2 linked regions of the Homo sapiens genome follow. The protein of the gene in region 1 interacts with the protein of each later gene in a biochemical or structural test. Each region holds a gene or a part of one and is shown on either strand. Other genes may lie near its edges. The genes, in order: LCN1 and LMBR1L.

What was found.
Region 2: the proteins of LCN1 (region 1) and LMBR1L form a complex in vitro, tested with the Homo sapiens proteins (one study listed by BioGRID).

Annotation. Positions count from the first base shown.
Region 1 is NC_000009.12:135,519,338-135,523,245, reverse strand, and holds the start of LCN1 (lipocalin-1 isoform 1 precursor), read right to left. Parts: upstream 1,807-3,908; 5' UTR 1,749-1,806; coding exon 1,659-1,748; intron 1,200-1,658; coding exon 1,069-1,199; intron 15-1,068; coding exon 1-14. UniProt on the Homo sapiens protein: Could play a role in taste reception. Could be necessary for the concentration and delivery of sapid molecules in the gustatory system.
Region 2 is NC_000012.12:49,104,034-49,107,941, reverse strand, and holds part of LMBR1L (protein LMBR1L), read left to right. Parts: intron 1-896; coding exon 897-981; exon of another isoform or gene 982-1,255; coding exon of another isoform or gene 1,256-1,397; intron 1,398-1,984; coding exon 1,985-2,018; intron 2,019-3,056; coding exon 3,057-3,196; intron 3,197-3,390; coding exon 3,391-3,494; exon of another isoform or gene 3,495-3,908. UniProt on the Homo sapiens protein: Plays an essential role in lymphocyte development by negatively regulating the canonical Wnt signaling pathway.

The sequences.
Region 1 (3,908 bases):
ACCGGCCACTTATCCTGGAAAACAGAAGCCCCCTGGCAAAGCGGCCCTGGCCTGTGCCTCCCCCGGCCCTGGAGCAACCATGCTGCAATGCCCTGCAAATGTGGCCCCGAGTCTGCCACAGGCCCATGGAGGAGGGTGCTTCTCTGCATCTCAGACCCAGGCACCAGCGGCCCCTCCGGGTCCCATGCGGCAGTTCCCGGGGTCTCCCGAGATGGCCAGGAGCTCTGCACCGCTCCTCCTGGTGGCTGCCTTCCCAAACCCCCCGCCCCCAACACATTTCCTGCCAGAGGCACCCAGGCTGCCTGGTTTGCAGGCAGCGTCTGTGGCGTGGGCCTGAGCCTCATCCCGCCAGCTGCATTCTTCCTTTTAGAGACATTCAGGCACAAGCCCCATATCCATCATCATCTGGCCCAGAGAGGGAAAGGTTCAGTGAGGGGCTTTGGGGGAAAAAAAAATCGGGGTCATTGCCAGGGTCAGTGACTTCCTGAGATTCAGCCCCCAGGACCGGAGCACAGGCACTGCATGCCACTCAGGAGGGAGCCATGCGGGTGAAATCACACAGGTGGGAAGTCACAGATGTGAGCCACGCGGGTGGAAGCAGCCCAGGTGAGAGCCGCACAGGTGAGCGCTACACAGGGATTTCAAGGGGGTCTTCTCCATGGTGTCTTCTCCTATGCCCCCTCTTGGTCATTCTGCAAGCCCCATCCCTGCACTTCTCCAAAGCAGAAATTTACTGCCAGGACTGGCTCTGACTCTGGTCGGGGGTAAACACCTTTTCCCAAAGGGGCCTGCACGTCACCAGACATTCCCTAGTCGGAGGAGGAAGTGGGCGGTACCCAGGGCTGCCACTGGTAGCCCACAGGGTCTGATCCGGGGCCTCTGCCCCCTCAGGGCCCCTCCAGCCGAGGCACCTCAGTGGCACAGTTTGCCCTCAAGCATTGCAGGAGGGGCCGAGAGAGGCCTCCCAGCAGGTCTGCCCACCTCCCCAGCACCAGAGCTCTCCTGGGTGGGGAAAGGGAAGGCCCTAGACCAGGTTGCAGGCTGCCCGGCCGGCTGGCAGACACTCACAGCATGGTGACCTTGGCTTCCAGGTTGCCCCCTTCCAGGGTCGTGAGGGTCATGGGTGTCACCGATTCCAGATTCATCTCAGGGAACTCCCTGTCCACCGTCATGGCCTTCAGATACCACGTCCCTGACACCTGGAGAAGGCCCCTCTCTATCAGGCTCAGGCCGACTGCTCCAGAGCCTCCCCCTTCCCTGGCCTGCAGCCCCTAGACTCTACCGCACCCCGAGGGCTGGAAACGGGGAACGTTCCCCAATCTAACCCACCCAGAAAACACCCAGCACCCTCGCCAGGCCCACTTGAAGGTGGCTCCAGCCCCCACAAGCCAGCCAGGACCACAGGAGCCCTCATCCCCAGGGAAGAAGTGAAGTCAGCCAGACCCCCACCCTCCCAGCCCTGCCCACTCTGCACCCCTGCGCCACCTACCCTGCCAGCCCAGACCCCTGCTGCCCCATCCCACCATTCCCTCAGGGCAGGGCTTGAATGCCCAACCCAAAAACGAGGGTCTCCTTGGATGGAGGAGGCATGGGGTCTCCATCCAGTCTCAGCCTCGCCCCTTGCCCCCTCCAGCCCAGCCTTCCCATCCGGGCCTCACATCCTGAATCTCCTCGTCTGAGGCCAGGAGGTGGTGGGCCTGCAGGGCAGCAATGAGGCCAAGGCTGACGGCCAGGAGCAGGGGCTTCATCTCCGGAGTCTGAGTCCACGGCCGCCTGACAGGTCGCTTGCTGGGGCTGGGAGAGGCTGTACCAGTCCTCCCACAGCCGCCCTTTATACCGCTGGGCTCAGGGTCCCCCAGGGACCTGGCACAGGAGACTGACCAATCCCTTCCTGGATGTAAACCACTGCCAGTTCTGCAATGGAGCAGATAACCTGCCATTATTGTTGGAGGCTGGTGAATAACAGCTTGTTAATCCCAGAGGATCACTTGGACAGGACCAGGTCCAGAGGAGCAGATTTGCAGATTTCACCTGAAGGGAAACTGAAGGGAGTGAAGGGTGTGCAGGCCTCCTGGGGACGTGTGCAGCCGTAACAGATGCCCCCCAGCCATCCCACACTTGCTGACGTGCACACTGTCAAGGGGGTTTGGGGTTGGAGTCCGAGGGCCGTGGGCTTGGGGCTCAGCTGAGCTTCCTGCATCTCTGGGCAGGTTACTTGGCCTCAGATTCATCATGGAAAAAAAGGGACCCTCCTGTGTGAACACGATCCCGTGTGCATTTAAAGACGGTGTCCACTGTCCTGAGCAAGGTGTGCAGTAACGACCCTCTCTGCTCCACACACAGAGCAGCAATAGGTCAGACAGACAGAAGACCAAGACAGGTGTGTGTGTGTGTATGCATGTGTGTACATATATACATGCACAAACGCACACACACTCACATAAAACAAGGAATGGAGGAGAAGCACAGGCTGGTGATGGGGCAGAGGCAGGGGCCTGTCAGCTCCAAGTCCCAAGGCAGGCAGAGAGGGCCTAGGTCCGGCTCCTGGGAGTGATGGGAGGGGCTTCCCTGACTCCAGAAAGAAGGCTGAGAAACCCTCCTTGACACATCCCAGGGCTGTAACTTCGTATAACTTAGTGGAGCACTGTGGGCATAGGAAGGCAAGAGGACATCAACACAGCCTCAAGGGCAGAAGCTGAGACAAGCCGTCCTTGGAAAGGATGACTTTATCTGTGACATGCTCTGCATCACTGCAGAGCAGAAGCCTGGGACCCGGGATGGGAGCAGAGGCTACAAAACACTGCTAGACAGAGGACAGTGACAACAAGATGGCAGAGAAAGGCAGAAATGCAGAGACACAATATCCTCACCTTGAAATAAGCTAGAAAGGCCAGGTTCCAAATTACCCAAGGAAACACCACACTAAGAAAGGCAGGCTAAAAATGAGCAATTGGTACAGGAACTTACACCAGCCAAGGAAAGTCTGACACACACTTTAAAACTGCAGGAGTATGATCAAGATGCCTAGTGATTTAAAAATATATAAAGTATAAAATTAGAACTGGCCAGAATATAAGAAATAAGGAGAGACGAAATAGAAATAATTACAAATCTTGAAGATGAATAATAAAGTGAATAAAAAACTCAATAGACAGGTTAAATTCCAGACTTGACATAGTAGAAAAGAGACTTAGTGTCATGGAAGATAGTACTAACAAAATCAATGAAAGCAGAAAAATTCAAAAGAGAAATTGAGGTGTTACAGATAGATTCAGTCTCCAGCCTGGAGCTAGTAATAAAATGAGTGGAGGAAACCAACTAGAGTGCAGCAGCTCTGAAAACACAACACACAGAGATATACACACACACATGCACACACACGCACACACACATGCACACACACACATGTGCACACATACAAATGCACACAAACCCATACACATGCACACCCACATACACACGCAGACATACACGCGTGCACACACCATTCATTCATACATACATGCACATACATGCACACATACACACACACATGCACACTCACACACATACACACATGCACACACATGCACAAAGTTAACACACATGGAGAATAGATCAGGAGGTTCCAATATAAACAGAATAGGAGTTCTGAAAGAAAAACATTTTCTAAAATGGCAACAAAGCAACAGAATAGCTCAGAATTCTTCAGAATTGAAAAGACATGAAGATGACACCCCAGATCTAAATTACCAAGGAATGATCAAAATTGAGAAATCCACTCCTAGAATATTACAGTGAAATGCAGATCATCCAGGAAAGGAGAAAAAAAGTCAAAATGACCAGAAAGAAGAGCCACACTACATACCATAAAAGCGGATGTGGACTGATGGCAGACCTCTCAATAGCAACGCTGCCTTCCGGAAGAC
Region 2 (3,908 bases), on another chromosome or scaffold:
GGCCAGGCTAGTCTTGAACTCCTGACCTCAAGTGATTCATCTGCCTCGGCCTCCCAAAGTGCTGGGATTACAGGTATGAGCCACAGTGCCTGGCGGAGACTCTCTGTTCTTGATTATAGAGCCAAGCTGGCCAATGGCTCCTCCTCTGGGCAGCAGCAGCTTACTTGGAGTAGAGTAGGAATGAATATGCAGATTAACCTGGCTGAGTTCCGCCATCACTGTCACTTGGCAGTCCAGCCAGCTCTAGAAACACTATAGATATTGGGCCCCAGCTAAAGCCCACTGTTAGGGGTAGAGGATTAAATGAGACTCTGGTTTGGCCCAGAGCAGACCTGATCTTTCAGGCCCCTGAATAAGCATGGAATAGAAGTTGTGACTTGGTCTAGAAACATGACACCTTCTTTGGGTCAAGGCAGCAGTGTGCATGGAGGTAGGAGGGTGGGGTAGCAATGGGGTGCCAGGACAATGCAGACGTCTTCCTCCCCTCAAACCTGCTTTCATTCCCAATAATGTGCTCGGAGTAAATTCCCTCTGGTTCTGTAGCTGGTTTGAAATGCGTGTGCATGTGCATTTCTAGGAGTTTTCTTTGCCCATTTACCAACCAGAGTTGGGCTGAAGCTATTTTCTCCCAATGAAGTCCTTGTAGGGCTGGGCATGTTGCTGTTTCCCCAGGTGCATGGGGCAGCCCCTGTCTGGCCCTTCTTTGAGGCCCCTGGGGCCCTGACTAGAAGGAAGTACCTGGGGGATCAGAACAGAACATACTTCCAGATGGAACCCTTGGAAGTATGGAGCCTTATCTTGAGGAAGTGATGGCCTGGAATTAACAGAGAGGCCCTTGGGGCTGTGGAGTGTGCTGAAGGTTAGAGCTTCTCATCCCAGCTCATATTCTGCTACAGATATCAACACTTCTGTTTGCAACACTGTACATCCTCTGCCACATCTTCCTGACCCGCTTCAAGAAGCCTGCTGAGTTCACCACAGGTACTTTGATTTCCCTCCCTCCTGCTAGAGTCCCTGTTGCCATGGACCAGCCTCAGGGGAATGGGCCTATGGTACCCACTGGGAAAGGAGCAGTGGCTGTGTGGGGCTGTTCTGGAGCCTTTGCCTCTTCAGCCTCCCTTTCTGCAAGATAGGGGCAAGGGCGGCTAGATGGATGTGTCTGCTGGGCAAGTCATATAACATTTCTGATCCTCAGTTTCATCCTACAAAATGGGCGTAACAATGTCTACCTACTCCATTGTGTGGACCAAAGGAGATGGTTAATGTGAAAGCCCTTTGTGAACCTGAAGTGAGCAACTGCTGGATGAATGTCATTACGGGCACAGGCTCTGTGTCATCTCCTCTCCTAGTGCTTCCACAGCCAGGACCAGAGACCTCCCTGATGACTGGGGAACCTGGTGATGGTGGCCTTTCTCTTTATGGGGAGCCTGAGTATGCTCAGATCGCAGCTTTCCTTCCCTAGACATTGTGTAATTGGGGGTGGGGGCACACTTGCCCCAGTTCCTAGCTCCAGCCTTTCCTCCTCTTAGGATGGCTCAGGATGAGTCCCCCCTCAACAAGGCAGCTACCCAAGAGTAATTCCCCTGGGGACTTTCTGTGTGAATCTCCCCTTCCCCCTCCTCTCTTTTCCCTTTCCTGGACCCAGCCACTGATGTAACCAACCTCACAGACTAGTTGTTTATTATATTAATAGTTTGAGCATATAAAGAGGAACTTGTGATGGGAGAGATCTAGGGAGGAGTAAAGAAGTATAGGAATGTCTGGCCTGTATTCTCTTCACCTGGGACCACTGATTTTTAAGCTGCCACCTTGGCTGGAGAACAGGCTATGGAGTTCATAATGTGTGGTCTCCTGGAGCCTCCTGTTCAGCTCTGCCTTCTTTGAGGGGGCAGGGATGGGGCAGGGAGCACATTGTAATACTAACGGCCTCAGAGCTGCCCCCTGATGTCCTCCTGCCTGTTCCCCGTGCCTCTGTCTCTTACAGTGGATGATGAAGATGCCACCGTCAACAAGATTGCGTAAGTGTCCCTGCCTCAGCACCTAACATCAGTGGTCTTTAGGAACTGGGATCTAGGGAGGCCTGGAGCTGGAGGGAGAAGGGGGAAGTCTCACACAGTGAAGAGAGAGTTTCTGTTTCCACCCCATTTCTGGCTTCCGGCTTTACCTCACCCTGGGGATGCTCAGAAAAGCTGCTGTTCCTGTCTTCCTGGTTAGGCCAGGAGCTTGTGGGAGCCTCATGGCCAGGAACGTCCGCTGGGGCCTGAGTCACCGGAAATGGCTCCAGCTTGGCTTCACCTCCCAGCGACCAATAGGGAGGGAGTGGAGTGGGGATGCACATTGATGGAAAAAGAGCAGGGTGTGGGGAAGGTGGGAACCCCTGAGGGAGGGGCATGCTTGGTTCTGGGAGAAAGGCCCATATTCCAGGCTGCCAGTGTTCACTGGTACATACAGAAAAAGATAGAGATATGACTCCTTTGAGTCAATAGATCAGAAGGCAGCCCTCCACCCTTGATGGACCAAAGAGCTAGAAGTGCCCATCTTCAATATATGCAGCCCGGGGCATAGACCTTGGCTATGAAGCTAGGTTTCAGTTCCCTCTTGTCCTCCTTTGCCCTCATGCCTTTGTGCAGGGCATAGCCATATGGGATGACCCTGTGCTTATCTGGGCTAAAAGAGGTAAGCTCAGAAATCCATATCCCTGACCAAAGAAGAGAAGCCAGGTCCCCTAGTTTTGGCATCATACCTGGCATAACTGATAGGCATGTATGGGAGGACCACATTCCTGGGGACAGCCTGGGTATGTGACATGGCAGGTGACCAGGTTCCCATGAATGCCCGAGGCTGTGCCCATCCCATGAGCTGGGGCTTCCCTGGAGGTAAAGAGCTAGGGTGGGGTGGCAGTGGGTAGAACCCCAGCTGGACAGCTCCTTCCTTAGCTCTGTGATTGCTACAGCTGGTTCTGGAAGCCACAGGCGCCCTCAGGACAAATGGGGCTTCTTCAGCACAGGGTAGTGAGTGCTGAGCTAAGCAAGGACACTGTCCCCTTCTCTGCCCAGGCTCGAGCTGTGCACCTTTACCCTGGCAATTGCCCTGGGTGCTGTCCTGCTCCTGCCCTTCTCCATCATCAGCAATGAGGTGCTGCTCTCCCTGCCTCGGAACTACTACATCCAGTGGCTCAACGGCTCCCTCATCCATGGTGTGTGGCTCCTGGAAGCTGCTTGGGGTAGGGATAGGGAGCAGAGAGCAGATAGAGTTGGGTGGACTCAGGCAGCCGTGCGCCAAGCAGTCATATGTCGCACCTTCCCACTCTGCTTCTCCTGCAAATGGTCAGTCTCCTGTGGGTTGCCCCTCCCCTTACTGACCACTTCTGCTCTTCCTTTTTTGCTCTAGGCCTCTGGAACCTTGTTTTTCTCTTCTCCAACCTGTCCCTCATCTTCCTCATGCCCTTTGCATATTTCTTCACTGAGTCTGAGGGCTTTGCTGGCTCCAGAAAGGTAAGTAGGGGATATGTATCCAGGCAGGAAACGGAATTCCACACACATGGTTCAGCTGAAGAGATTTTAATAAAGAGGCTATTTGCAGAGGTTTAGTTAACGGAAGTTTGAGGCTCTAGTGACAGTAGGAAGTCATTACCACCCTTAGGCCTGTAGGGACAAAGGGAGGAAATGGTTTCTAGAACCCACTAATAGCTGAAGCCAGGGATGTGAAGCTGCCCAGAGAGGAGCTGTTGTCTTAGTGTCATAATCACTGCCAAAACCATGGTGGCAGACGTGGGAGGACTCACAGGAAACATACCCTCACCTTTTTTCTACCTTCCATTCTCCTGTTGGATGCGAAACCAGAGGGCAAAGAGCTTGTGGGATGCAGACCTCGGAGGTCAGCCTCCCAGAGCACACAATGACAAGGAA